Linked DNA regions of Homo sapiens. The protein of the gene in region 3 interacts with the protein of the main gene of each other region in a pairwise test. Each region holds a gene or a part of one and is shown on either strand. Other genes may lie near its edges.

Region 1 (8,152 bases), on a different chromosome or scaffold from region 3:
ACCTGGCTTTTACACCCATTTCTTTCACTACCTAGTTGTGAGACCAGATCCAAAACCCAATTTGTTAGAGTAACTGTCTTTCATTCTCTGATTTCATAGTCTTAATCTCAAATTGCCCATTTGTAAAACTGGGGTAACAAAGCCTGCCCTATTTAAGTCTAGTATTGGGGATAGCACATGGAAACTTAATGTACTATTATGTAGGTAAGGTATTATAAAAATATAAAAATATTAATACATAATATTAGTATGGAGATATTTGCATCTAAATTCTATAGCTAAAGTTTATTGGCCATTGTCAAATGAATGAGTTTGGTTTTTCATTTGTATTTGCTGCAAAATACTATTTTATATCACCACGGGTCAAAAGAGAAAAAAAGAGCAGACGTAAAGCTATATCCTTTGATTACCAGGGTGAATATTAGATATTATTGGCCGAATTTGTGTCAAACAGCCAAACATACTAGTCAAAATCCATGCTCTTTCCACTTATTCAAAGGCACTAATGGCTTTAGTAAAAGTAGAACATATTATTTAAGAGGACTAGTTAACTAGCCTTGACAAGAAGTAGGCCAAGAATTCTTGTGAATGAATTAGCTAATTCCTACTGTAGACTTTGAGCATTTGGTCTTTCACTTGACATCCTAATGAGAATTCAGTAACAGCTGGAGACACAGTTGTGACTGAAGTCAGTGGAGCTGTTTGGGAAGGGCTTATGTTAGAAATACCAGCCACTTAGGATAACGTTGTTATACCAATAATGGTCTTAGGGAAGACACAATGGTGCCAAGAAAAAAAAAAGTGGGTTAAAAAGAAAAAACCACATTCATATTTGTTGATCTTTAGGCAGAGCTTATGGTTTGTTATGGGGTATTAAGCCATATGGAAGGTATCATAAGAAAAGCATACTGGGGTACCGTTTGGTATATTGTTTTTGATGTATTTGACTATGTCAAGCATTTTTGATACAGAAATATTTGTTGAGCACCTACTGTGTGTTTTAGCACTTAGGTGAGAAAACAAAGAGACATAATACATTATCACTATATTTGAAGAGTTAACAATCATGTTATGAAGATAAGACATATTCAAAGGAAAGATAAATAACCATTCCTTGCCATTTCACTGGGGATGCCACAAGGCCATACATACTAAGTGTCACCTGAACACACTGGACAATAAGTTTTATCAGACCTAGGTTAGGGAGACATCTTTTTGGATAAGTGTTTTCATGGTGGGAAATGAGCTGGAACTTGAATGATAGGTAAGAATTTTAGTGATGAGAAAAAGTAAATGGGCATGAACAATGAACTACGTGTTAGTCCTTTTAGTGTTGTTATAAAGAAATACCTGAGGCTGGGTAATTTATAGAGAGAAAAGGTTTAATTGGCTGACAGTTCTGCAAGCTGTTAAAAAAAAGCATGGTGTCAGTGTCTGTTCAGCTCCTGGTGAAGCCCATGAGGCTTTCAATCATGGTGGAAGGCAAAGGGAGAGCTGGTGTGTCACATGGTGAGAGAGGGGTCAAGAGAGTGGAGGGGGAGGTCCCAAACTCTTAAACAACCAGATCCCCTGAGAGCTAACTGAGCAAGAACTCACGCATCACCAAAAGGATGGCACTAAGACATTCATGAGGGATCCACCCCATGATCCAATACCTCCCACTAGGCTCCACCTCCACCATTAGGGATCACATTTCAACATGAGATTTGGAGAGGAAAAACATCCAAACTATATCAAACCGGAAGTTGGAATGAACATACCGTACCCCTACAGTGGGCAAAACAGCCAGATCAGAAGGAACTCTCAGAGAAAGGGAGGAAAGAAAATCAGGAAAATATTAATTCTTTGCATTTGTTTTACAAAGCCATTGTATAGAACTTCGCAGTGTAAAAATGAGCACGTGCCCAACTCTCAACACATCTGATCCACAAAATCAAAACTAAATCCAGAAACCTTAGTGAGGCTGGCAGCATGGATGTTTTTCCCAGAGAGTGTGTATCCCAAGCCTTGTGATTACTGCCCCAAAGCACTTTCCTCTACATAGAGCTCACATGATAGGCCGAGACACCCCACAAATGGTGAGCCTTTTCCATGCCAGGTTAGGATTTGGTTTTTCTTCTGTGAGGAAAAGAAATAGACAATGTACTGAACTTAGAAAAAGGTGAAGAAAGAGTCTATCTGTTGGTGGCTTAACCAACAGATCATCTTGACAATGACCTTGGACAAGTCTGTAGACTGTGATTTTTAAAGAATGGTTTTTGAGTACTTGAGTACTTGGAAAAACCCTTGAAACATGGGTTCACACACACACAAAAAAACAGTTTAAGTAACTCATTTCCTTCTCTGACATGCGTACAATAGAAAACTGTAGATTGTAAGACACTTGCTTCAGATACCACTATGGAGAAAATGGACAATTATGGAATGGGTGATGCATTAGTCTGCGTTCAGTTTTAAAGCTGAAGATGATATTGGAACCCATGTAGCTCTGCTCCATCATTTTACAAATGAGAAAAAGGAGAGGAGCCATAAAGTGACTTGCTTAAGGTTACATCCTCTTCCTCTTTGACCTCCTCCTCCTCCCCATCATTTGCCTCAAATTAGATTACATGTATCGAGCATTTAGTATTTATCTGGCGTATTTCAAGTGCTTAACATGTATTGACTCATTTAATCCTCATGGTAACCCTATAAGGTAACTGAGGCTCAGGGAGATTTACTCATTTGCCAGTATCATGAGGCTGTAAGCAGCGGAACAGGGATTTGTACCCAGCAATGTTGGCTTGTGAGTTGGTGAGTTGGTGCTTTTACTATACATATAGCCTTTCAAGGCCATATAACTAGTGAGTAGCAGAGCAAAGTGTCTAAGGCACTAATGAATGGACTTTTTAGTGATATAAGATGTTGTCTTTGCTATGTCTATGTCAACATTTTTATCAATGAGTCGAATAAGATATGAAAAAGCAGTTCATCAGATTTTCAGAAGTCATGAAATAAGGGTATGAATAAGAAATATTTTGGACAACAGAAGCAGGATCCTAAAAGATTTGGGATGATGAATGAAGCCAAAAAGTTTTAACTTCAGAGGAATATAGGAAGCATTTCATGTAGGTCCCAAAACCAATTGCCCAAGGATGGGATGAAGAATATGCATAAGAGAACACAACTTAGGGGAGGTAGGGGTGGGGAGATTTTTATCGAGTTAGTTCTACATGAATTAACATGCAGAGCTGCCCACCTAATGCAAGTGAGCAAATGGTCCTCCTGTATTCTATATTACTTATGTCCACTGGACTCTCATCCCAGCAACAGTCAAGGCAGCTCTGGGCTCTCCAAAGCTCTTTACAGTGAAGGCCTGGATATTTCTTCCTCCTTTGTGACATGCTTTTGCTTTGATTCCCCATTTTGGCCTCCTCCTTTGTCATCATGACTTTGTTCCTGACTCTGGTCTTTTATTCTACGTTTTTGTTTTGGCTTCTCCTAGCATTTGAATCTTGATTTTTTACTCTGGGACCCTGATTTGACTTACCTCTCTGGCTCTCTATGTCTTATGCTGCATCAGGAGAAAATCTCTTATCTTTTTTCCAGCCCAACAGAGCTCAGCCCATGAAACGGACCTTCAATGGGTATGTTGACAGCACCCCATCACCGTGCCAACACATATACCATGAGGAAAAGGTTTGGACCATATCTGGAGTATTGCATCCAAGTCTGGCCAACCCCCTTCCTCACTGTGAGGGTATCTATGTAAACTGAAGTACATTATTAGAAAAAGGATAGGTTGGGAATAGACATGAACCCTTGGTGATACATAGAATTACTGAAAGAGCCAGAGATGCCTAGGGAAAGGGGGATTATGGGCACAGCAGATCAATCTCAGGATTTGCAGAGGATCCCACTGTGAAAGACTTTTTTGTCTTTCAGGCTTCTCTTGTGTGGCCCCTGGGAGCAGTCTAGCACCTGTGGGCAGAAGCTGTAGGGAAAAGGAGCAGATTTTATCTCTATAAGAAACTTTCTTGTGGTGAAAACTATCTAGAAATGGAATGAGAAAGTGGTGAGCTCCCCATTATTGGAGGTGTTCAAGTATAGGCTGAGCGGTGACTTGTCACGAAAACTGTATGACAGACCCAAACATCAACGGGGTGCTTAGATTCTTTGATCTCGGGTCAGTTCCACACAAGACAGGCTCTGTGTTAGTGAGGACCCAGTGGTGTTTTTGAACAGGCGGCAGGATAACAATGGTATATAAAATAAATGCAGAGAAAGACCTCCACATCAAGCCAACCCCTCCTCCCTACCTGTAAGTTTTCCACCTGAGTGAGCTCTGGCTCCAGCTGCACTTGTCAAACTCCCATTGTTAGAGCACAGATAAATGCTTCCGGCCACCCAAGCAGGAGAGGCCCACCTCAACTTAAGGGCTACTCTATTTTAGTTTTCCGTAGCTGGAGATTGAGTATCACGCTTTTCTAATCTTGTGCTTCTGAAAGGGCCCTGTTCTCTCTTGAACCCCACCCCCTCCTCCTTTCACAGATCAAATACCAAGTACATTGGACAGATAGAAGTTCGAATGAGAAAATGCATTTTAATAAAATCCCATTGATTTTTGTGGATGTAAGTCAAGGAACAGGCACCTAAAGAGTCTTCCATCCCCTGCCGTCTCCCGCCTCTCTCCTGACCTACACCGGGCGGTCATACATCGATTGGCTTCCTAGATAATAGATCGTGCCACCCGGTAGGGACCTCTGGGGACGCGCCGGGAGCTGGAAGAGTCGCACGCAGCAGCCCAACCCTGAGTTAATCAAACTAGCAACAGGATCTCAAGCAGCAGCGACGGCGGTGGCAAGAGTAGCGGTGACGGCGGCGGCGGCGGCGGCGGCAGCATTATGCGTGATTACTGACAGGCACCAGCTGCTGCCGCCACAGCCGTCTCAAACGCACTATGTGGACTCTCCGATCTAGAGGCAGATTCCTGACTAATCCCAGAGGGCTGGCCCAGCCTGTGCTCCCCGGGCTGCTAGGAAGCGATGACCACTCTTGTTAGCCCAAGTTGAAGAAAGCCGGGCTGTGCCTGGGAGCCGAGAGAGGCGGTAATATTTAGAAGCTGCACAGGAGAGGAACATGAACTGACGAGTAAACATGTATGGAAATTATTCTCACTTCATGAAGTTTCCCGCAGGCTATGGAGGTAAGTATCTCCCTTGGGCTTCACTGCGTGGACCTGTATGAGAGACTGAGAAGAAATTGGGAAATACGAATGACTGGATTAGTATTGAATTAAAAGGAGAACATATATGTTTATATGCATATATAGTGTGTATATAGCGTTTCAGCGTGTGTGTGCACGCGTGCATGAGAGAGGAGAGGAGGAAAGAATGGTCTGTAGGTGAGGATACGTTTGCATATCAGAATGAGGATACGGGGATATTCTAAGGAGAGAGTAAACCAACATGCTTGAGAATGTGTCTGAGACAAAGATAGAATAAGAGCATTGTTATAACCCAGTGTGTTTGTGCGGGTGTGAAAAGTGGAAGAGTTAACGGGGAATTACTATGATGTTCCTATTAGCCAACTTGTAATGAGAAAAAATGTGATTAAAAAGGTTTTGCCTATCTTGAGGGTTCCTGGGATACTTTGTAACAAGGGCATGATTGTTTTACTCAAAAGCAGATTTCCCTTTAATTGGATTTTTAAAAAGAAAACATAGTGCTTTAATTTGCTACTGTGTTTTCCTTCCCCTGTTTTCTTTCCTTTGATTTGCTAATAGCCTCTTCTCTCCTCCCCTGCTGCTGCCCCCAATTCTACTGCAAGAGTTGCTGCAATCACTTCCACTCTGGGGGTAGAGATCTGGGGATGGGGGGTTGGGGCTCTTAGAGAATTGGCAAACTGAAGATTCAAGTCACCGTGCCAGGCAGGGCAGCCCAGTCACACTTCACAGAAGCTTCCGGAGACTAGGTCCTCAGGCTGCCTTAACGCCCAAGCACATCCGTCCCAAGGATCCCTTGATTTAGTGACAGAAACAGTACAGCCGCCCAGCTCTGAGTAAATGGAAGCAACAGCTGACCAACTGGCCTGTCGCTTGTCAGTTGGAGGCATGCAGCTTATGTTGCTGGGAGCCAAAGAAAGATTCTGGCAGGCAAGACAGCAGAAATTCTTATAAGGTTTTGAAAATTGAAAAGTCCCTGCTCTCCAGACTTCCTCCGTGGACCAATTCATCTGAAGGCTTGGGACTAAAGCTTGCCTAACTTGGCTGGGCAGAACCCCCTGGGAGGCATGGTGACACACTGCAAGGTAGAAGTGATCTCTGTCACCAGGAGGTGTTAGACCTGGGAGTTTGCACATTCATTCAGGGTAGTTTTTATGAGGCAGGCATGGTGTTGGGCACTGGGAATACAAATATGAATGAGACACAGTCTCTGCCCTTTGGGACTGGGGCAGGCTTGTTACACAGGCACATTATAATACTGCATGATGTGTGTAATAGCAAACGTAGGTTGTACTTGGACTTGGGGTGAGGGCCATGGAAATGTTCCCGAGGTGATGTTCAAGTTCTTTGGGCCAGTCTGATGACAGAGTGAGAGCGGTGGCCAATGCTGTGACCTGGGCATTTGATCTCTAGTCTATGGTTGGGCTCCAGATGTGAAAAGCCTCCTCAATTCCCACCTCAGTCCCATTCAGAGCTGAGAATTGCTTTTTCCTTTACATCTTAGTTCATTTGTAAGAGGTGCATGCTCATTTTCAGCCAGATTCGTGGGCCCCCCAAGGTCTGTGAGACTGTGGCTTCATTAATGCCAAAGAGACCCTTGGAGACAGTTGGGGTGAATAAAAGGGTTGAAGCTAGAAGGATTTAGGGAGAGAACTAAAGTAAGAGCCAGAGAAAGAAGATCTAGTTAAAATTCCATGGGGGCTGGAATCTTGGAATGTTAGCATCCTAAGGACCTGAAACAGCATCTTAGGCTCTCATCTTATAGATGTGTAAACTGAGGCTCAAAAGAAGGCAGGGACTAGTCCAAATTTATATGGGGCTGAGCTGCAGAACACTTCCAGAAAAGCCCTTACTCAAATTTATAATATTGTTGCTTTAATATAGTGAAAAGAGCACCAGGAGGAAGAGGAGGCAGGAAGAGGTAGTGTGCTGAGTTTGGTTCCCAATTTTTCACCTAGTAGCTGTGTGACCTTAGGCAAGCTAGTGAACCTCTCTGAGCCTTAGCACCTTTCTCTCTAAAATGGGATTTATAATCTCATCCTTAGAGTATTGTGAAAATTAAATGAGTTAGCATGTGAAAAACAGCTGCTATAGTGTTGTCCATATATTTGCTACCTAATACAATATTTTCTTCCCCTCTATTTTACTCAGAGACTAACATGCAAAATAGTTAAAAATCAGACATTATTGTAAAATAATAAATAAGGAATCTGGGAAAATAAAATTAAATCCACAAAGACCCTCATATTTTGCTGGCATAGATTTTCATAATTGTGGGGGCTCTGATATTTAGCGTAATTAGATTTCAGATAGAAGTAAACACAATGGTTCAGCTATGGAAGGAAATAGTTCAGTATAGTATAGGGAACTTGAGGGGAAAGGGTCATGTAGGTTGTCTACATGTCTCCTGTAAAGCTACTTTTCTTTGTCATTCTTGAGGGAGGAGAAGAATTATTTTGTTTAGTTCTGTTGAGGTTTTCCATTTTGTTGGCATGTGCCAGTTAAGAGGAGGCCTAAATGCTGAGCCAAAGGACTCTGCCCCCGTCTGCAGGGAGGTCTGTTTGAGAACTTTCTGTGATGAGGGAGAGGGACAGAGGACTCACAAGCAGGCACAGGGGAAAGCAGGATTAGAGTGGACGTCACCTTTGGCCTCTAACCTCCCCTGCCACAGTGCAGCAAGTTGCACGGCACTTATTAAAATACTTGGTGTATAACCCCCTGCCCTGTTACATATTAGCACATGGAATTACAGAGGGCCCCATGATTTGTATAAGAATCTCCAGGGAAGCAAAGTCACCTTTTGGAAATAACACCTGAGATTTGTGTCTGGGACCATGCTTACCAGATGTCAGAGCATCATCTGATCAGTGAGCAACAGATTGCTCAAACTGGCCAAAGTGTGGTGGCTACGTGGTGGCTCCACAAAGGTGCCCAATCTCCCAGCTTTGG
Region 2 (8,752 bases), on a different chromosome or scaffold from region 3:
TTGGGACATTACAATCTTTTATTTTTTAATAAAGGGAGCTAGGCATTTTCATGAAGACAGGAAAGTTGTCATTTATATGCAGGGTGCTGTCAATGTCATTATGAATGACAACTGAATCATTTGCATACTGATGTAAGTGGAAGATGCATTAGACTAGAAGTCAGGTTCCTTGGGCTCTTGTCCTGCCTCTGACTGAATTGGTCACGTCCCCTGGCTGCACTCCTGGCTAGAAAGGATCAGTTTTAACACTGTGTGTAAAAATGTACCTTGCTCTCTCGCATAGGCTGGAGTGCAGTGGCGCGATCTTGGCTCCCTGTAACCTCTACCTCCCAGGTTCAAGTGATTCTCCTGTCTCAGCCTCCAGAGTAGCTGGGATTACAGGTGCTCGCTTCCATGCCTGGCTAATTTTTATATTTTTAGCAGAGATGGGGTCTCACCATGTTGCCCAGGCTGGTCAAAATGTATCTTACGCTAGCGAAACTGGGAAAACCAGACCCTGTATTCCCCTCCTTTATGTGTCCACCGAATATTGTTTTATTGTTCCTTATAGTTTTGAAGAAATTTTCATATGGAAGACAATGTGAATTCTGAATACATCTGAGCCTCCTGGAACTTATAAGCAATGCACACCTGAGGCAAGTCACAAGTGGTGCCGGTGGTTTCCATACAGATTGGAGAATGTGAAAGCATTACACCTTGAGAAAGATTGCTGACATTCATGGTATCCGATTCTGACATGCTTTCTACTTTTTCATGAGAAGTATCCACTTCAAAATGTACAGGATCTGAAGGTGATGACCAAAATTTTTGATAGTCCTTGTTCATAACTGTTGAACAATAGAAGACTTCTTTAAAAAAAAAATGTGTCTATTAGTAGGTATAAACAAAAAGTTTTTTCCCTATCCCTCTTCTCATTAAGAAAGTAGCAAAGTTCACTGCCCTTATTTGAAATGTCATTTGTCAAGTTATTAGAAAAATTAAAAATTTTAGTCTGAGTATACCGTAATTTGGTATGGTAGTAAATACTGATTTGGAGAAAAACAAACAGTATTGGCTACTATCCAATAACTCCCTAGAAGGCTTTGGACCTAGAAGTGAAGGGATCTCTGTGTTATTTAATCAAGGATATTTACAAAATATTATCAGAGACCTAATAGTTTCCACAAAATCCTGGATTTTTATTTACTTGATACCTTCCACTTGAACACCTCACTACCAAGTCAAACCCAGCATTGTAACTGTTTTCCCTCCTCACTTTCCTATACTGCGCCTATTCCCTCAGGTACATGTGTTTGAAAACTGGACTTGTCTTGGCATCCCTCTACCTCATCATGCATGGCTATTCAGATACCAAGTCCCGTCCATGTCTCCTTTAAAAATGTCTTTCAGGGCCGAGCGCGGTGGCTCACGCCTGTAATCCCAGCACTTTGGGAGGCCGACGCGGGCGGATCACGAGGTCAGGAGATCGAGATCATCCTGGCTAACACGGTGAAACCCCATCTCTACTAAAAATACAAAAAAAAAAAAAAAAAAAAATTAGCTGGGCGCGGTGGCGTGTGCCTGTAGTCCCAGCTACTCTGGAGGCTGAGGGAGGAGAATGGCGTGAACCCCGGAGGCAGAGCTTGCAGTGAGCCGAGATGGCCCACTGCACTCCAGCCTGGGTGACAGAGCAAGACTCCATCTCAAAAAAAAAAAAAAAAAAAAAAAGTCTTTCAGTAACCTGTGCTTTCTTTCCATCCCATGTTGCCACACTGGTCCATATTCTCCTGACTTCCTCAGGCCTGTCCAGAGCTCCAGAGCTGAGAGTGGAAAGGATGGCCACTCACATTGATTCTATAAATTTTTGTCCTTCCAGGCCATCCATAGCCTGGAGTGACATCCCCTACCCGGTACTCCCCTGCTCTACTCAGATCAGGCTCATTTCCCTGCAGACAGATAATGTTCCTTACGAATTAAGCTTCAGTCATCTGCCCTGGCACGTGCTTCTCTCCTAAAACCTTCCCATCTACCCATTCATCTATTTTCAAAATTCCTACAATGTCTTCAGTCTCTAAATCTCTATCTTACAATTCAGCACTTGGTGATTTCGTTTACTGTTTTAGAGCTTCACCACTGTTTCAAGGGTGTTAGTGTTTGTGTTTACAGATCATAAATGTCTTGAGAGGAGCATACTTAGGGCTTTCCAATATCCCCTACTGCAAATGGACCAGTGCTGTCTACACAGCAAATATTGATTGAATAAAACCTGCATTCCAATGACTTATTTCTATCAAGCTCTTTCAATTTATAGTCATTACTCATCTGCCTGGATTCTTTTATTGAATTTCTGAATGAATAGTTTATTGAAAATTAGTTGTTTTCAAACCTATGTCATCACTTGGTAAAATATAAAAAAGTAAGCCAAGCAGACCAGTCAGGATCAGTGAAAGGCCCAACTTTATGCTCACTTCTCCCTTGTCTTTCAAATAATGCTGCCTGGATTGTGGTGAGATCTGAAAAATTCTTGCTTTGTTTTCCCAATGCAAAAAAGCGCAAAGGCCTTGTTTCTTAGTTTTCTTGTTTGTGAACCCAGCACTTCCAATTACATTTCTACAACTTTGTTCATCCCTCATGTGGCACTGCACAATCTGCCAGTTTACCTTTTTAATTTAAAGTTAGACTATTTTTTCCATCTTTCATTTGTCCTTACAGGTTTATGTTGGATTTTTAACATATTTATCAAATGTTTGAATAGATGTTCCAGAGACATTCTAAAGCTGTTTTAAGATAGGAGTTAAAAGAGGTGTCACGGGAGTTACTCGCAAAAACTATAGTTTTGTTTAAAAGCTTTTTCAGTTGTAAGACAAACTTTACCTTTTTAAAAAGCACTTATCTCATTCATTTTTCACCTCAAAACGAGACACCAAACTTTTTAAGACACAAAAGTGTGCTCACTTCCAGGATCCATAGTTTCTTGGACCCACGCTACGGACCTGGCTCTCCCTCCCTCTGCACCGGGTTTTGTGGGAGGGAGAACGCTTTCCAACCTCCTCCACCAAGGACTCTCACAAACTCGCAATCGGGCTCCCGGAGTGCTGGAACGCCCCTGTGTGACGTCCGCCCGCGCCGGGGGAACTCCGCAGAGACAGGTGCAGCCCGCGAGGCCCGAGCGACCCTACTGTGGGTGCGGTGTCTTCCCAGAGAGTGGTGAAGTTAGGAAGGTACGACCCCCTAGGCCGAACAGCCTGTGGGCTAGCTGGCGCCTCCTGCCGCAGTAAACACAAAGTGGGGTACAGAAACGAAAACTCCGGGAAGAAACGGCCAGCACGGGCCTCGCCGTGCCGGCTACTCAACACGCCTTCCTGAGAGCACAGAACATCCACAGCCCTATACAGCGCGCCATCCAGAGAGCTCCGGACTCCCAGCTCGGCGCAGGGGCGGGACTTCCGCTCAAGTCAGACTTCCGGGCGAGGCGGTGAGGGGCTTCCGGTTGGGGTGGCAGGGTGGTGGATCTGTCGGTCCCGTTTTCCCGTCGCACGTGGTGGCCACTGTTGGCTTCTGAATGGTTTGCAAGGCGGATATCCACGCCAAGGCCTTTGGATCGGCCGTGGGTACATCCGTCTGAGCCGTTCCTTTCCATCGCAGAGCGGCGGCCTCCGGCGGCGCTCTCCAGTCATGGACTACCGGCGGCTTCTCATGAGCCGGGTGGTCCCCGGGCAATTCGACGACGCGGACTCCTCTGACAGGTAGGCGGCCGTACAGTGCCCTGGCTCTGGGTACGGCTCTCTCCTTGACCGCCCCCTTGGGGTGTGGACTCTTGTTTGCGGTTTAGAGGGAGACTAGTGGTTCATCACTCAGCGTCTCTCTTGACAACCCTTTGCCTGTTTCTGCATCCCAGCTGGGTTTTTCTCCCAGTTCACGCGGCAGAGTTAAGTGAAAGCTACTTGTCAAGGGAGTCTGCGGTTCTCAGGTCGGTTAGCGTCACTGGGAGGCAGAGTTGGGGATAGCGATTAGGAAACATGGGTTTTTGCGTTTTAACCACATTTAGCGTTCAACAAATACTTACTAAGCACTTAATATGTACCACGTTCTGTCCTGGGCGCCGGAGGTAACAAGAAGAACCAACTTCCTGCTGTCATGGAACTTTACCTTCTACGTGAAAGAGAGGGCACACCATTTAAAAACCAAATAATGATGTAGACTATGCAAATCGTTTGATATACCAAGTGGTGACTGAATGGGTAGGGAAAGGTTAAGTCCAGATTTGAATGACAAGGAGCTAATCCTGGCAAGAGCAGAGGGAACAGCATTTCACACAGAAGGGACAGCAAGAGCAAAGGCCCCGAGGCCAGAGTGCCTAGAGCACAGTGGAGGTAGTTGAGAAGATTGGTAGGGTGATAGAGAAGTAAGAAGGGGGGCCAGATCATGGAGACCTTTACAAGTGATGGTGAAAAGTTCAGATATTAATGTGGGTCTTATGGAAAGCCATAGGAGGGATTTTAGCAGAAGAATGACATTATTTGCTTGGTGATTTAAAGGAATCATTCTTTCTAGGTAGATGATGTTCATGGAGGGTGGGAGTGGAACAGAGAGACCAGTTCAAAAATAATAAGGTAATCAGATTCAAAGATGGTGGGGACTAGAGCCCAGATCCTAAAGATATGTCTTGGAGGTAGAAGTGGCAGCGTTTGGTGGTAGACTGGACGTGGAGTCTGGGGAAAGAGGGATGAAGGATAACTCCTGCCTAAAAGCAAAATGAAACATATTGGAGTTATTTTGGAATTCCAAGAAAACAGCTTGTACTTTATGTTTACAGTAAGGATTCATCACATGCGGATTTTGTTAATTATTGGGGATGTTTTCAATAAATATATGTATGTTGAATGCTTTCTGTGAGTCAGATCTAGTCTTAGGTGGTAGGGAGGCATTGGTAAATACCATCCTGAATGACACAGAGCTTGCACCCTAGCAGGGGAAACCGATATTATTAAATAATTAGACTATTTGTATTCGAATTGGGTAAGTAGTACAAAGGAGAAGTGGGGGAAAAATAGGGAAGACTTCCTTGAGCAAGTGATAGTGAGCTGATACTTGATGGATGAGTAGGGGTTAGCCAGAGAAAGAGGAAGGGCATTCCAGTTTTATGGTTACGGAGAAGTGTACAAAAAGCTTTAGAGAAGAAAAGCAGCAGAAGAAACACAGCCAGCATAGCTAGTGGGTAGTTAATGGTAATGAGAGGGCACTAATTTACCATCCACCCCAGGGTATTGTAAGGATACACCAGTGATTTTCCATTGGGGAAGATGTTGCCATCCCGACTTCTACCCAGGGGACTTTTGGCAATTTCTGGAGACGTTTTTGTATGTCACAGCTGGGGGTGGTGGTACATTAGTGGCATCTGGTAAGTAGAGGCCAGAGATATGCTGCTAAAAATCCTACAGTGCAGAAGACAGTCCCCCACAACGAAGAATTATCTGGCAAAGTTACAACTTTAACATGCCACTCTAGGCAATTATATATCAATCTGTGGAGCATATGTATGAAGTCCTGGTAAGTAGCAAGTGTTTGATGATTGTCTGTTTTCTTCCTCCACATGTCCACGGGGAACCCTCAGAGCCATGGCTAATTAATAAATTGGGATTGATAATCTGAATTTACTTAAACTCGTCTGTTTTTCAGCTGGTATCTCATATTATCAGCTGCTTTTTTATGGTTTCTGTCCTTTTCTGTACATGAGAGGTAAAAACTGAGTCCTCTGTTGAATTTGGCCTGCAGACATGTTTTGTTTGGTATGCACAATTATTTGTAAAAATTGACTATGCCAGTGAAGGGATAGATTTTACACAGAAATCCAGACTTACAGCTTCACTTGAAAAATTAAGATCTGGTAACACTAGGCCTGAATTCTAATATGGCAAAAAAAAAAAAAAAAAAAGCCCTTACTGGTTGTGCTCCCTTTACCTTGGACCTCTTCTCCCAGTTTGCCAGTCCCCACTTCTATTGTGCAGCCTACTTCTCTCATTTGTAGTGCCTGGTCCCTGTATTCACCATTTCTTCCCATCATGAACAGGGATGATTTGGATTTCTTTGTGGAACACAAATCTTGATGTAACTTCTTTTATTGCAAAGTGTTATCGAGTTCAAAGTAAGACTGCCTTAGACTTATTCCCAAATTTTTTGTCAGAAAGCTTTTTTTTTTTTTTAATTACAATTTTTTTTAGAGACAGGGTTGCCCAAGCTGGAGTACAGTGGCACGATCATGACTCACTGCAGCCGTGAACTCCTGGGCTCAAGCAATCCTATGGCCTCAGCCTCCCGAGTAGCTGGGATCAAAGGTGTGAACCGCTGCACCAGCCTTTTTTCCCCCTTTCTTTTTTCTTGTTTTACAGAAAGATTTTCCTAGAGATTTTCTAAAGCAGCTCTGCGAATGATTTTCCTAGAGTCAAGTCTGGTATACTGGTCTGAGTTGTTTATTCAGCAGAGAAGATAACAATATAATTTCTAACTTTAACAAGGCAGAAGCAGATTTAACTTGATGTGCTTCTTGAATAGTAGGCTTTGGGCATGGAGAATGAGCAAACAACTGCAACAGAACTGGAAAACAGGAGAACATGGTTTTAAGGAGATGGAGCTTATCGGAAGGTGTATTTTATATAAATATATAATCTTTTAGATTTATCAATATTTTAATATCTTACATCATAAATATGTGAGATCAGTTAGGGTATGTGGAAATATTGTTATGAAATAATAAAACATTGTTATTTCTAGTGAAAACAGAGACTTGAAGACAGTCAAAGAGAAGGATGACATTCTGTTTGAAGACCTTCAAGACAATGTGAATGAGAATGGTGAAGGTGAAATAGAAGATGAGGAGGAGGAGGGTTATGACGATGATGATGATGACTGGGACTGGGATGAAGGAGTTGGAAAACTCGCCAAGGGTTATGTCTGGAATGGAGGAAGCAACCCACAGGTATTTTATAAAGGATCCTGCACATCTTTATGTAGTCTGCTTATGTCTACTTTTTTAAAAGGCTGTTTTGTGATTCTGAAATTGAATAACTAAAAGATTTTCTTCATGTTATATTGTCCTGTAGCCTCAGCCTTTACTGATTTTCACTTTTCATCCTTTCTGTATTTCTGATAATTTCCTGGGTGTGGATTCTTTCCAGAATCTGTAAATTTAAAAAGAGTTATAAAGATTGTGAGCTTAAAATCTTCATGGGAAAGGGCATGGATTGGCAGTTTACTACAAATAGTTAAGAAACATGGTAAAAAAGTTCAGCCTCATTGGTAATTAAAGAAATGCAGATTAAATTTGTAGAGATGCCGTTTTTTCACCTGTGAAACTGTTAAAGACAAAACATATCATTGATGGTCAAGTAAATAGGTGCACTTACTTGTAGGATAAGCTGGTATGTGATAAAAACTTTAAAAGCTTCAAAATACTTTGACTTAGCGATTCTGTGAGTGTGCCAAGACTTAGTTACAAGAATGATCCTCCAGGATTGTTTATGGTAGAGGAACATTGGAAGCAACCTTGAACGGGATTAAACCTGCTATGGGACTGATTCGCACAATGAGGCATTATACAGCCATAAAAGATGTTGTAATGGAAGACTGTATTAATGAGATAGGAATATGTTTGTGATTATTTACCATGTACAAAAAAAAGTTACCAAACCACGTACAGCTGCTGCTCATACTGGAAGTACCAAGTGTGTTAGGAGTTTGTAAGGCCATAGGATTAACATGGTACATCTTCCTGGAGCATAAAGGTTAATCCAGCAGTCTTCCTTTGACCATTAAAATGGCTATATCGGCTGGGCGCAGTGGCTCCTGCCTCTAATCCCAGCACTTTGGGAGGCCGAGCTGGGCGGATCACCTGAGATCAGGAGTTTGAGACCAGCCTGGCCAACATGGCGAAACCCTGTCTCTACTAAAAACACAAAAATTAGCCGGGCGTGGTGGTGGGTGCCTGTAATCCCAGCTACTCGGGAGGCTGAGGCTGGAGAATCGCCTGAACCCAGGAGGCGGAGGTTGCAGTGAGCCAAGATCACACCACTGCACTCCAGCCTGGGCAACAGAGCGAGACTCTGTCTGTAAAAAACAACAACAATAAAATGGCTATATCATGGACCAGAATGTGTGCATTTTAAAATAACCACATTGTGAGTGACGACAAATTTTGCATTTTTATATCGTCTTGTTCTGGTGACTCCTTCACTGATTCATAATGAGGCTTTGAGCAATTTCATTATTGAAGTTTGCGCATAGCACCAGCGTAAGTGCTGAGCCTCGTACTTAATATTTCCCTCTCTTGAGACATTGGGCCCAAAATGAAATTCTGAACCAGCTTAATGCTGGTCTTAGCTCTTTATTATATACTTTGGGGGTAAATGAACATTCTCAAATTTTAAGTCTATAAACCAGTCAAATTAGAAAACTACACTTAATTTTAATCTGTTACTTATAATAAGAGGAATCATAGAGAAGTTAAAAAAACGGATTATGCAGACTCTTTTAGTCAGTAATTTTAACCTTCTGTTTCAAATGCTCTTTAAAAAATTTTTTGAGCCAATTTGATTGACTCTTACCTTTCCTTAAGATACTCCTCTAAGTATTGATGCTTTAATAGCTAAGTATGAACTAAGGAAATGTGATGATGAATCTTAGGTTTGTTTTTACAGCTAGTGCCTTAGACTCTGGAATTCCCTTCTAGGCAAATCGACAGACCTCCGACAGCAGTTCAGCCAAAATGTCTACTCCA
Region 3 (6,502 bases):
CTCTGCAAGCTTGGACCCAAATGTCCAACACAGCCTATGGTGACATCCAAGATACTTAATAACTATTAACAACTACAACAGACCAAGATGGTTACATGTGACTCTGAGCAGGAATTCTGGCTTAGAACATTCTGTCAATTCTGCTGGTACTGAAATCAAGAACACCTTTCAGAAATTGCGCCAAAGGATCCACAATAGGTAGGGAGGAAGGAACATATATCCAGAATACAATCCAATGAGCCCTGACACATAAGACTTTGAGGGTGCACTGCAGATCCAAGATTATGCTGTTTTGCTTCAGTGGTTCTTCTGGGTGATGTCTTTTTTATTTTCTCTGGTTTTCGCCACCCTTCTGCTATCCCCTCTTGGTTGCCACAGCATTTTGTGGGTGGGCATCATTACAAAAGTGAGGAGGAGATGGTGACTGCTCTTGGGGAAAATGAGAATGTGCAGTGATTACTCTGTCATCAACGGTTTCCCCAAACTCACTATCACAAACTTGCCCAAAATAAATCCACAGCCTTAACTCCAGTCTCTCTGTTCCTGTAGAAATTACAACAGCCAAAGATGAAACCTAAGGCAAGACAGATGACAGCATGATGGAAGGAAAGAGTACACTGAGTGCCTTATCGATCTATCTGCCAGCCTGTGAATGGTGGGTAATAAAAATTTATTGAAAATTAGGGAAAAAAATCACTTATTCTAATTCTTCTGAAAGGCATTACTGATGTTGCATATGAATAAATCCCTCCTTCCCCAGGACGAAACTACCATCCTCCACCATCCAACCCTCTAAACAGCACGAATTTAAAAATCTTGCAATTTTATTTGCATATAAAGGCCGCTAGATATAGAATATCACAATAAATTTAAAGAAACAACTGCTTTCCTAAATTTCATTAACAAAGTAACATAAAATAGAATAAAGCTCAACAGCATTTACAATGGGAAAACAGAAATGACTATTAGCGACAATATTTTGTGCTAGCGAAGATTGCATCGACACACAGTGCAAAATGGGAGAGGGGAGAGGAAGTAAGAAGACAACTTGGGGTATTTAAATAGAAAGGACAACTAAGCCTTATTTTAGTTAGCTTCCATTGCATCCATTTAAGTCTATACATGCCTGTAACTGTACCTAGATTTAACTCAAGCTCTTTAAGACCTTGAGCTCTGAGAGAATGTGTCAGTTCCTTCCGACTTCTGATGTGTTGCTATACAGCATCCCTTTGCAGTTGTACTGTCCTTGACAATAATAAACTCCTAACGTAGTCATAATACACAAAAAATACTTATATATATAAACCCATATTGAAAAGGAGTCTGCATGTTCATTTTTTTAACCGTATGAAATACCTGCTCTTGACAGATTCCATTTCTGTATTTTTAAAGCTGAAATAATTTAAAAGAAACAAACAAACAATGAGACCTTGTATAACCACAATAGGAATCTCACTAGTTAAACCATCCTTTAAATGACAGCCATTTTCTTCTCAATGCAGCTTTCTTTATAGTGAGAGTATGAAAAGAAGTCTTTTCCATGCCTACTTCTGTTGAGAAGATTGCTATAAATTGGGACCACATCTGCAAAAAAGAAGCATTACCAAGAAAACAACAACAACAAAACATTGAAAATTAAAATATTTCAAACAATACTCTTAAACAGTTGTGCAAATCTGTGTTGGTTTTTAAAACACTGCCTGTTTCTTATTTTTTTTTCTTTCAGCTTAAAGCATATTAAAATAAGACTTTTATCACTTTTTAAAAGAAAGCTTGGCTGTCCTTTGGCGAACACTAACAATTTACAATGGCATGGCCTTTGAGAAAACAGAAGTCATTTTACAAATTCACAATGTTCCTCTGATTTCAAATGGATGCCCCATTTAAAATAAAATAAAATAAGAAGCACAACCTCTAGCATCATTTGTGTTCCAACAATTTACAAAAAGAACTCACAGGGTTTGTAAATAAGTAAGAGAATGTAAGTTTATAATTAGAAAAATGGCAGTTTATAGACCTTCCCTCACATTCCAATAGGGCATTTAGAGCTTCAGGAACCCTGTGGGTTTGGAAGGTCAAATATAATTGGAGGGTTGGTCGGTTGAAAGCTGACTGTACACGTCGAGGCATTGATGTACGTTGTGTAACCGTCGGTCATGATGCCATAACCTGTGGGGAGAGCGTGTCACATTTACTGTAATATATACAAATGAGAGTGATGGAATGTAGGGCTGTCAGGCAAGGAAAACAAAAAATTTTTGTCAGTGGGCAGTGAGATGAAATTCAGTTGAGCCTCCTCAGATATAATGACTTTCAGAAGCTACTGCCCAATTTTACTCTATTTTCTTTAAATGGTAGAATCTTCTCCTTCAACTAAGAGCAATTTTTTTTTCTTTATTTAAATGCTAAACTTGTTGAAGAAGGGCTGTGATTTCTTTACTAGGGAGAATAAAGAAAAACTTTTTTCCTCCTTTTAAAATAGGATTTTCATTTCAAAGCCTTGTGTTAACTATTGAGTTCTAGGGAATAAAATGAGTAATATAAGGATTACTCCTCAGGGGCAAACACAACTAAATTCCAAGTGGGATATGGGGCAGGTGAGGGGGGAAAGGATACTGCATTGAGAGTTAAGAAATGTAGACACTCAATTTACTTATTTATGAAATAATCTCTTAACTGCCTTTACGAAAGTCAACCATATATGATTTTTGAATTGTGTGGCTTTAATACTAAGTTCCATTTCATTCAAAAGTGTCAGCTAATCACATGTCGAAGTGATGTGTAGAAACATCACCCTAGGTCACTGTTTCCTAAGCTTACCTGGATACTAGATCAAGCAAAAACACTTCCCATATGCAATATAAACCTTTTGTGATTTATTGGGAGAAAGTTGTTTCCCTAGGTCTTTGGTATATATGTTCCTTTGATAATTTTCAATATGATAAAATGTTTAGCATGTTTGCAAGTTGGCACATTTCCCTGAATACCTTATATTTGCCTTATAGCCTCTTCAACTAAGATTCTATGTTGGTATCAGGCTCTTATCGCATATAAAAACATAGCTGTGAAAAAAATAAAATTACCAAGATATAGAGAAGTAACTGAAAAGGCTTTTTTCCACATTGGCTAAAATTTCTCCAAGTAAAGCCTGTGGAGAACTTAATGAGGGTCAATGGAAAAATCTCTTAAGAAAAGAAAAGAGGCATTTAAAATCTGCGCTGTTTAGTTCTGGGGTCATAAAGTCTTGTTATCTCTCTCCATCAAGAGGTTGGTATTTGCCCTCTTCCTGCCCTCTTCAGCTGTCTTAAGTGAATAAAAGTGAGACAAGTTTATATGAATATGATCTCCTCCCTTTTAGGCAAGTTTATTATTTTGGGGCTTCAGTGGAATTCCCCAATTGTCTGGCTAGTTTAAAGGTAATTAATGATTTTTTTCAAAGATAAAATGCAAACTCATAGGCATGCTGCACGAATTCAGACCTGTTTTCAGAATAACAGTCCTCCAGAAATGTTGCTTAGTTTAGATATGAGGTCCCACCTCCCTAGTCTCCCCTCCAGGCATTCCCCCATCACTGGTGTTCCCTCCATCATACCTTAGGGCAGTACCCTCCTTTTCAGGGAGCATAGCTCAAAGCCAGGGCAGGCCGATATCCACTCTCTGGGAGCTGCACCCTGCTTTCCACCCACTCAGCTGGTACCTGCCCTTGGAGCAAACTGAATTTTCTCTGGCCTCAGTAGGATGATTTTCAATATGCTCTTTATTACCCACCTAACCAGGAAGCCACTGAATTTGTGGGCTTTGAAAAAGCAAACTTTGTTTTTTGCTTCCTCAGGCACACAGCCTTAAACACCTCAACTTGACTGCATATTCATAAGTAACTCCAGAGAGCTGCCATAAGCAGGAGCTAGAGAGAATATAGCGGCTGCCCACGTAAACACGGCCATTGCACACAAGCGTGTGTAACTGGGAAAATCTGCTAGGGACAGAAATCCTTAGGCTTGCTGAAAGAGGGCTTTGTGTCTGTCTCAAAGCCCAGTTACCCATGATTTGAAAAAGGCAGGTCGGAGAAAACCCAGATCCCTTGAAGATTCCTGTTAGGCTTTCGGTTCTGTGAACCTGACTCAGCTTACCTTGAAAGGCAGAAAAATGGCAACTGGACCAGTTCCTATTTAAGAGAGATTTAATTATTCTGCTTAACCTCAGCCTGAGCTAATAGCTCCGATGATTTCTGAGAAGTCTGAAATAGTTTTCTGAGGTTAGTAAGGAAAAGTCTACCTGCAAATGTGCAGGTTCCCGCCACTTCTGTTACATATCTTTCATTGCATGTCCTAAGCTATTTTTCAGAGAATGCCTTGTCTTCCTGGGTCTTTGTGTTAATTCCATATGAAACACAATATTTACAGGTAGGAGGGGACTATAGAGGCTTAAAATAGCTTCTAATATCCAGACCATTTCTTCTAACTCTCTTAAGGAGAAAATGACTCCTTGTATACCTTGGGGTTGCTCTAAAGCAGTGGTTATCAAACATTCCTCGTTAAAGCCCTGAGATTCCAGAAGCTGCCAGGGGGAGTGCAGGGTTTGCAGTTAGTAGACCAGACGTGCTTCCTACTTTCCACTCTGTTTACAAGAGAGAAGGTCCATATAAAATATTTATCAGCTTTATATTCAGATGTTTCTCATAAGACTTCATCTTATAAAAGGGTCCCGCTGCTAAAAAGTTTGAAAACAACTACTCCACTTATTCCTAGTTGTAGACTGAGATAGTGGACAGGGGCACAAAATGTTTTGAATTCTTTTCCGCTGTTCTTACCTTCATGGATTCCACCAAACACATGGAGCTTGGGCCGGACTCGCCTCTGAACCGTGTTTAACAGCTCCACACAGCCCACTCTTTGAAGCTCCTTTGGAACCCAGTCTCGAAAACCTAAGGGCAAAATGCAATCAATACACTTAATTTTCTTTCTTCAGGTAAGGTTTCATTTAGACTTTCAGGAAGCCATAACTCACAGAAGGTTTATTACATTATCTGTAATCCTAGCCTCTCCATTAAAGCTCACAATGGCTTTTAAGAAACTTTTCACTCGTCACTTTGTCTTCTTTAGGTTCTTGAAATTTTTTTTTGGTTTCCATTTTTTTTTCTTCCTGTTAATTAACATTTTTTTTTCTGTAGGAGATTTGATTTATTCAGCCATGGGTTTCAAATCTTCTTCATGAGCTCAATGACATTTATTCCCGGCAGTCCCATAATATCTCTTTCTCCCTCAATTCAGTTACTTTCGCTATTTTATTATATCTTTCTTATAGCAGTTTACTTCTAAGATGATTCAAAGAAGGACTGAGAGGAGCTGCCTGTAAACTGGTCACAAGATACCCAGCTCTCTTTAGATACACTAAGTCTTACCCCTTGTGGTTCCGGATGACCAAAGCTTTGGAAAGCTAGGTTGCTCCTGTGGTCCTGTCCTCTCCAGCGACAGGCAAAAATGTGACCTCACAGTGGCATCCAGCAAGCTGGGGCTAATTGACTACTTTTAAAGTAAAAGCCACTTAGTTCTACACTTAATGCAGAAAATCCATAAAAACTGACATCAATTATAGCAAAAGTCAGCTATCTGGATGATTATGGCCTGGAATGGAATCCATACGCCTCAGCAGGATAGGGCATAAAGAAGGCAGGTAGGATGAAAGGCTAAATCGTAATCTCTGGAAACCCATTCCACAGCGCCATTAGGTTATTTCTATTATTTAGAAATAACTGGGCAGTAAGGAACAGCTTTCTGCTTTTTCGGGCCAAACTGCAGACATGAACGTTTAGTGTCTCTGTAAAGACATATTCGCTGGGGTTTAAGGAGTGACTAGAGAGTCTGAAAATAGATGAAAGTGGGGTCCCCAGCAAAAATCTATCCAGCGTTTTCAAAACTTTTTTAATAGTGGGGCAGAATTCTTAAGCTACATTGATTGGCATATTACCTCATGCATGTGTTTTTCCTGAAGGGGGAAAATATTCCATTTCATATGCAAACATCTGAGAAAGCATCTTGCTTATACCATAACAGTGAAGTCTCACGGCACTGTGGCATCCCTCACCAGCAGGAAGAAATTCAAGGCCAGTCTCTCCACTCCCCTCTCCAATGTCACGTTTTCACAAGAATCCCAATAGCTATATTAACTAAGGTTTAACAATACCTTAGGAAGACTTTGCCTGACCTTTTATTTGGGAACTCCTTGATGTAGCTGTCACTCTGCTCTACTCACAGCCACTCTCTCATTTACTCCACCTTTACCATAAAGAGAGGGATGCTAGCTTCCCTATTAAGAGTTCCTGGGATGTCTGAAATCCTTGGAGTCTACAATTCAGACTTACTCTTATTGCCATTTGCTTTTATACCAAAATCAATGACTTGATAAGTTTGTTCTGTTCAAAGTTGTATTCCAAATAATACTCGAGTCATGTAAATGTTTCTCTGCTGAAGATGTCCAAGTCCCTTGAAATAAATAGCCAAAG
Region 4 (7,498 bases), on a different chromosome or scaffold from region 3:
CCTGTGGAGTTGGGGTGTACTGCCCTCCCGGCAAGCTGATGAGTTCTTGTTTACCTTCTTGCAGGCCTCCATGAGTTTACCTGTCCAGAGGCTCTCTGTGTCCCATCCCCTTGGGCCTTTTATCAAGATGTCATTAGATAGGCAGGGCTATCATGGACAACCATGTAAAAATGTGATTGAACAAAAAGGGTATAATCTAACACTATTAGACTGAGTAGGGAAACCCAGCAAGGCCTGACTATTCAGATTCTTCTTGGCCTCTCTGTGCAGCATTTCTTCATCCTGGGTATGGGGGAGGACCCCTTCTGAATTGGGGTCTTATTGAGGTAGAGACCCACAGGATTTATTTCCCTGGTCCTGACAGATTAAAGTGAAGAAACGCAAAAACCAGCAGATGGCGACAAAAGCGATCTCTAGCTGCTCTCATTGCTCATTAGTATAAGACGCTCCCACCCAGTGCCACAGTTTACAAAATGCCATGGCAATGGCCCAGAAGTTACTGCTCCTTTCCTAGAAAGTTCTAAATAACCTACCCTTCAATTTGCATTAACCCACTCCCTAATTTGTGTGTAATTGAAAGTGGGAATAAGTGAGTATAAATATAGTTGCCAAGAGCTCATATGTTGCTGATTCTGGGTGCACTGCCTTTGATTTAGCCCTGCTCCACAAAGAGCAGTACTGTTCAAAAACAGGTTGTTGCCCAACACCACTAGCTCACCCTTGATTTATTTTTCGGGGTGAAGCCAAGAAGCCTCCCTGGCTAAGCCCCAAATACGGGAGCTTCCCATTCCTGCATCATTATGACCTACAGTCAGACAAGGTAAATCGGAGAATTTACTTATGGCCACCTCCAAGACAGAAAGGCAGGGGAAAACTAGAGTATATTTTTAGTTTATGTGGTCTGCCTTGGAGAGAAAAAAGGAGTAGGTGAAAGGAGAGCAAGAGAAGGTCAGGGAGAGAAATTCTGTCTTTTGAGGCCTGCTTCTGAAGCCTGAAAGAGCCCCAACATACACGGAAAGACAGTCTTTTTTTTTTTTTTGAGACAGTTTTGCTGTGTCGCCCAGGCTAGAATGCAGTGGTGCGATCTCGCCTCACTGCAAGCTCTGCCTTTCGGGTTCACGTCATTCTCCTGCCTCAGCCTCCCAAGTAGCTGGGACTACAGGCGCCTGCCACTACACCCAGCTAATTTTTTGTACTTTTAGTAGAGATGGGTTTTCACCGTGTTAGCCAGGATGGTCTCGATCTCCTGACCTCATGATCCACCCGCCTCAGCCTCCCAAAGTGCTGGGATTACAGGTGTGAGCCACTGCGCCCGGCCAAGAAAGACAGTCTTTTATGTTTATGGTTCTGAAGCTGTTCCGAAACAAAAGGCCAAATACTTTAATCAAAGATATGCTGATTGTTCTAGCCACTTAGGAAATAACAAAGGCTATGGGAATTATGAGCCAAAAACCACAGATGAATATGTGTATCTCACAGTACCTGTAAGTATAAAATAAAGAAAGAGGTTTTATGCACACCTTTTTTTTTTTTTTTTTTCAGAGAGACCTGCCTCGGCCTCCCAAAGTGCTGGGATTATAGGCGTGAGCCACCACACCTAACCTTTATCCACTTTGTTAGGGACAGAGTGGGTCTCTGGCTCAACAAAAAGCCCAGATAAATCAATGGGGCTTTGGCATATTAGGTCAGCAGAAGGGAAAAGGCCAGTAGAAGGGACAGCAGTATGCAGTAAACATGGAAGTACCTAGGGGAGAAGGAAGGAGACACAAAAGTTGGAGGCACCTGTAAGCCAACTGGACTTGTTTCTGAATACAGTTTAGATAACCTGTAGACACATCTATGCCTGACGGTATTCAGAAATAAAATCAGTAAAACTTTCAACACGACAGCAGAGCATTAAACCAGGAGTAGAACTCTTCTGACATCAGGGCCCTGTGCCACAGCACAAGTCATATACCTATGAAACCTTCCCTGGCTGTGTGTGTTGGCTGATAACAACTTACATCTTTTTTCGGGAGGAGTGAGGGGACAAGGTCTCACTCTGTTGTCCAGGCTGGAGTGCAGTGGTGCTGTCATAGCTCACTGTAGCCTTGACCTCCCGGGCTCAAGCAATTCTCCCTCCTTAGCTTCTCAAGTAGGCGGGACCAAAGTTGCGTGCCACCACACCCAGCTAAATTTGTGTGTGTGTATGCGTGTGTGTGTGTGTGTGTGTGTGTGTGTGTGTATGGAGATGGGGTTCTCCCTATGTTGCCCAGGCTGGTCTCAAACTCCTGGGCTCAAGCAATCCTCCTACCTCAGCCCCCCAAATTGCTGGGATTACAGGCCTGAGCCATACAACTCACATTTTACCTCTTCTCCAGGGAATTGTTCTCTGCCAAATGGGAGCCACCTTGCTCCAGAGACTATGCTCTGCTCCACCTACAGACTTTGATCTGTGACTGACGCTGAGCTACAAAAAGCCAGTGACTTACTGTCAACGTGGGATGACTTGTGTGTGCTTCAGAGTTTTCAGGTGCGATTAACTAAACTTAATCTCTAGTTAAACCCCATTCTTCATCACTGCCCTGCTCCCCAGCCCTGTCCTGCTGCCTTTACTTCCTTTAACCTGAGAGAGCATTACAAGAAACTACATTCATAAGGATCTCTGTTCCAAGTTCTGCTTCTAGGGAGCCCGACCTAAAATAGGAAGGGTCTCTTTATAGAAATATTTCAGCTAAAATCCCAAAAAGAGGAAAACAGAAAGAGTCTTTGCTTTCCCTTGGACAAACTTGAATTGAAATTGAACCCAAATTCCAGGATGCTTTTCTAGAATTAGTTACCATCTTATAGGAACCACAGAGTAAAGAGATAATGTGTTAATGACACCACTGAGATCCAGACTGTAGGAAAATACAGAACAAATGACTATTTCATCAATAATTAAAGAAAAAATTAAAAAATGAAAACCCACAGATTAAAAGAAATTTAGGAAATTTGGCAACCAATCAAAATGCGCATATCTTATTTGTATCTTGATTCAAACAAACTGTTAAAAAAAACTATAATACAATTGGGTATTTGAACACAGATTAGACATAAAATGATATTAAGGAATTGTGAATTATTAAATGTGACAACAGTATTGTGGTTATATGCTAAAAAGAAGAAAACCCTTATCTTGTAGATACATACTTTGAAATATTTATGCCTAAAGTGATATTATGTCTAGAATTTGCTTCAGAAATAATTTTAAGGTTGGGAAGCGGGTAAGATAAAGACGAAATAAGATTGGCCATGAGTTGTTAACTGTGGAATCTGAGTGAGGACTAGTACATGGGGTTTGCATTATACTATTCCATTTTTCCAAATGTTCGAAATTTTCCATTAAAGTTAAGATAAAGTTAAACTATAAAGACTGTTTCTTAAACAAAAAAGGGGCCGGGCGCTCACGCCTGTAATCCCAGCACTTTGGGAGGCCGAGGCGGGCGGATCACGAGGTCAGGAAATCCAGACCATCCTGGCTAACACGGTGAAACCCCGTCTCTACTAAAAATACAAAAAATTAGCCGGGCGTGGTGGCGGGCGCCTGTAGTCCCAGCTACTCGGGAGGCTGAGGCAGGAGAATGGCGTGAGCCCGGGAGGCGGAGCTTGCAGTGAGCCGAGATCGCGCCACTGCACTCCAGCCTGGGCGACAGAGCGAGACTCTGCCCCACCCCCCAAAAAAAGGAACAGAACAGAAAGGTATTAAGAAGAATTAGAAAAAAAATCCACTGTCCTTGACTCATTTCCTGTCCCCCCCCAAACGTTCTGGTGTGGAGAAAAGGATGAGCATTGGTAACAAGTACCACAGTTTGCCATTGGGGTGGGCGGGACTGATGCTCTCTTTATTTAAATTTTTGACATCTTGCTCATCATAAATTTTCTTGCAATAATTGTTTTTTAAAATGTTGCATTAAAATGTTATTTTTCTTGACTGCTGAGGAATTTTGCACCCCTTTAAATTCTGCGCCCGCGTCCTGGTTGGGAGATGTGGGGAAAATCCTGGGAGCCCAGGACAGGGAGAGGCAAGTCCCCACAGAAGTGGGAATGGCCAACAGCTCCCTGAGAAGACAGCTTCCCTCTTGGGGAGGCAGAGGAAGTCCCAAGAATACACAAAGACAGGAGAGTGGAAGGGCCGGCCAGTCTGGAGATACTAAAAGAGACTCCGGATGAGGATAGGGGCTGACCCGAAAGCCCCGCCTGACTCCGGGCTGCAGGAGGGGGCGTGGGACGGGGGCGGAGCCGTTGGCGATGACAACAGCCCCACGTGACCGGCCAACACTGAGTGTTGTCTCGCTCTGGCGTCAGAGCCGTCGTGGCTCGTTCCATTCTCGGCGGTGGTACCTGCTCCCGGTGGCCCTGAGGACGTGTGGGCCAGGGGCGGCCCCGAAATTAGGAAGCGGAGGGGGAGCAGGTAAGGAACCCGGCGGGGGGTCCCTGGGGTTGGTGTGAGGGAGTGGCTCCGGCCTGCGGATGCCCACCCCGGGGGAGCCGTGCGGAGAAGCAATCGGTCCGCGATGCAGCCCCCGGGCCCCGCGGCGGGCCCGCGAGCCTTCCTTGAGCGGAGAGGTGCCCGGCCCGGAGGGAGCCGGCGGTCCTGGGGCTACGACCCTTCGGAAACACCTGCCTACGCCATCAGCGCAAGCTTTTCCGACACCCCTGCCCCGCACTTCTTGGTGCAGAAAATGGTGGTCAGCTTGCGGGGCGGGGCGGCTGAGGCGGGGGGCGAGGGTGGCGAGGAGGGCCAGGGCCAGGGCCAGGGCCAGGGCCTCGGGGCGGGGCGGGGGAGGGGCCGGATGGCGGTAGTTCCTAGCTAGCGTTCTGCTGCAGCAGCCCCCACTTCCCCCACCCCGGCAGTCTGCAGGTCTGCGGGGCTAAGTGTCGCGGCGGCGCACCTCGCGTCAAGAATCCGGAGGAGGAGACTGCAAGGATAGGCCCAGGTCGGTGCGAGGGTCGGTGGTGAGGCGGGGGCCGGAACGTGAGGAAAGCCCAGTCTGAGACCCTAATCCATGCCTTCACCCTCGCCCCCCTCTACCCCATGCAACCCTCCCCTTCCCACACGCCATCCTCGTCCTCCATTTTGCTGCCTGCGGAAGCCTGGAGATGGATCTACAGGGAAAATGGTGGGCTTTGCGGAAGGGAGGGGCTCGGATTGAGGGCACCCCACAGGGCATACTGGCTTCTCAGGTGGAAAAAAATGAAATGTTAGAGTATAAAGTCAAGTCCAGGGCTCTGAATTTTAAAAGGTGCCTAGTAGGGCCTCTGTCCTCAGTGCTTATCAGTCCACCAAGAATTCAGCCCATTTTCTCTCTCTTGTCTCCTAGGAGTAATGGAGTCCAAAGAGGAACTAGCGGCAAACAATCTCAACGGGGAAAATGCCCAACAAGAAAACGAAGGAGGGGAGCAGGCCCCCACGCAGAATGAAGAAGAATCCCGCCATTTGGGAGGGGGTGAAGGCCAGAAGCCTGGAGGAAATATCAGGCGGGGGCGAGTTAGGCGACTTGTCCCTAATTTTCGATGGGCCATACCTAATAGGCATATTGAGCACAATGAAGCGAGAGATGATGTAGAAAGGTTTGTAGGGCAGATGATGGAAATCAAGAGAAAGACTAGGGAACAGCAGATGAGGCACTATATGCGCTTCCAAACTCCTGAACCTGACAACCATTATGACTTTTGCCTCATACCTTGAATCCTAAAAGTTTTCGCTGAGGTTAATGTGAACACTGCTTTACAAGCTTGTATTTTTGTGATTTACTTTTTCTGTAAGCCTTTTGGGGTTTACACTTACCAGTTTCTAATGGAAATTAGAATTCTAATTGAATATTGTTTTGTCTCAGCCTAAAAGTTACGGTCAGCATGGCAATTCACCTATTTTAGGAAAAATACTCTTTTCATAATATGAAATGCATAAAGCAGTTCAAAAAGCAGTCTGTATTCCATCATCTTCCTTTTTCATTCCAGTCCTTATTTTTGTAAGTATTACTTTTCCTCCTCCGGCTACCTGGACTCAAAATCTCAGTTGTCTTTGACAGTTTTTTTCTTGTCCCTGACCAAAAAAGAATGATCATACCCAGAATTCAATGTTTGATATTTTAAGAATGTATGTTCTAGTGTTTTTCAGAGTGAGTCTACCATCTGTATAAAAACACCTTGGGGGCAGGCAGGGGCATTTAAAAATGTAGGACCTATCGTCCAGACTCACAGAGTGGGGCTCCAGAATCTCCATTTTTAACAAACTCTCTTAAGTAATTCTGATGTGTACCAAAATCAGTGCCATTGGTGTGTGTGTACGTAACTATATACATATGTGTGTGTGTGTATATATATAATGTGTCATAACCGTAAACAATAAACAATATCAAGATAAATCTGACTTTGATGGGCAAGTAATTAAAAAAGAAAAGTATGAGACCTTAAAATAAGACTGATGATTATAGGAGTGGTAGGGACAGTGGCAAAGTTATTCACTGTGCAAAGCAAAACATGCCTGAAGGTCACAGCCTGAGGAACTCAGAATTCATCACCCCTGTCAGCAGTTTCACATCCAGGATCTCATTTTATTCTTAGAACAACCTATAAAATCTGTATTGTTATCCCACTTTTACAGATGAGGTCACTGGGGCTTAGAGATGTTAAGTACCAAGGCTAACTCCTGCTGAATATCTTGGGGGTGGGGGAATCCAGCCTGGGCCATTTTCTATTGGACCTTATCATCTGGAGATGCAGAATATTTGACTTTTGTAACTTGATGACAAGCTGAGGATGGTAAAAGAGACTCAGCAAGAATGGGGCTGTTTTTCTATACACTGTTTTTCTACATCTCAAGTACACTTTAATTTTTAGAATATTGAGGGATAAAAAAAGTAAGATCCTCTAGTGTTGTTCAAAGTTAGGATTGCCACTCTATGGCTCTTGAAATCAGTTTTGTGGGTTACAACAAGCAATTTTTTAAAAAGAGAACAAAAGTCATCCTATCACCCGTGAGTAGTGTTAAGAATTGTTTTGGAGAAAATAATGTGTTCTATGTAGTAAATATTGCCACCTTTATGATGTATTTCTAACTAGATCACAGTGAAAAAAGAATGAAAATCACTTATTTGGTGCAAACTTGGTTTCACAAGTGAAGAATTGTTAAGAAAGCGATTTTTCCTAAGGTCATACAGCCAATTAGTGAAAGCTGTGACCACAGCCTTGGTGCTTCAGGGTGCTTGTCTTCTCACCACATTGCCTCCACAAAGAATTATTTGGAAATTTTTGCATTATGTACTGATTGCCAATCAGTGTAAATGGAAAAGCATATACAACTTATGCAAAAATCACTTTATATGAACTTCACACTATTTAGTCATCAGAATTCCTGCATGTTCAACTGAGAACCACATTTAAGGGAAACTCTGCCTCAGATAATTTTGGAGCTGGAGTGATCTTTCACCTGTCTAGAGGAAGAGGATGATATAGAGTCTGATTTGAAAATGCA

What was found.
Region 1: the proteins of MPPED2 (region 3) and RXRG interact in binary tests that used the Homo sapiens proteins (3 or more experiments, as listed by UniProt).
Region 2: the proteins of MPPED2 (region 3) and CAGE1 interact in binary tests that used the Homo sapiens proteins (3 or more experiments, as listed by UniProt).
Region 4: the proteins of MPPED2 (region 3) and BEX4 interact in binary tests that used the Homo sapiens proteins (3 or more experiments, as listed by UniProt).

What each region holds. Positions count from the first base shown.
Region 1 is NC_000001.11:165,441,878-165,450,029, reverse strand, and holds the start of RXRG (retinoic acid receptor RXR-gamma), read left to right. Parts: upstream 1-4,903; 5' UTR 4,904-5,136; coding exon 5,137-5,185; intron 5,186-8,152. UniProt on the Homo sapiens protein: Receptor for retinoic acid. Retinoic acid receptors bind as heterodimers to their target response elements in response to their ligands, all-trans or 9-cis retinoic acid, and regulate gene expression in various biological processes.
Region 2 is NC_000006.12:7,386,349-7,395,100, forward strand, and holds the start of CAGE1 (cancer-associated gene 1 protein), read right to left. Parts: upstream 3,395-8,752; 5' UTR 2,854-3,394; intron 849-2,853; 5' UTR 826-848; coding exon 631-825; intron 1-630. Other genes in the region: RIOK1 (serine/threonine-protein kinase RIO1), read left to right, coding at 6,515-6,621, 6,751-6,955, 8,705-8,752.
Region 3 is NC_000011.10:30,409,418-30,415,919, forward strand, and holds the end of MPPED2 (metallophosphoesterase MPPED2), read right to left. Parts: intron 4,925-6,502; coding exon 4,811-4,924; intron 2,170-4,810; coding exon 2,051-2,169; 3' UTR 807-2,050; downstream 1-806. UniProt on the Homo sapiens protein: Displays low metallophosphoesterase activity (in vitro). May play a role in the development of the nervous system.
Region 4 is NC_000023.11:103,210,807-103,218,304, forward strand, and holds BEX4 (protein BEX4), read left to right. Parts: upstream 1-4,301; 5' UTR 4,302-4,432; intron 4,433-4,875; 5' UTR 4,876-4,958; intron 4,959-5,342; 5' UTR 5,343-5,347; coding exon 5,348-5,710; 3' UTR 5,711-6,440; downstream 6,441-7,498. UniProt on the Homo sapiens protein: May play a role in microtubule deacetylation by negatively regulating the SIRT2 deacetylase activity toward alpha-tubulin and thereby participate in the control of cell cycle progression and genomic stability.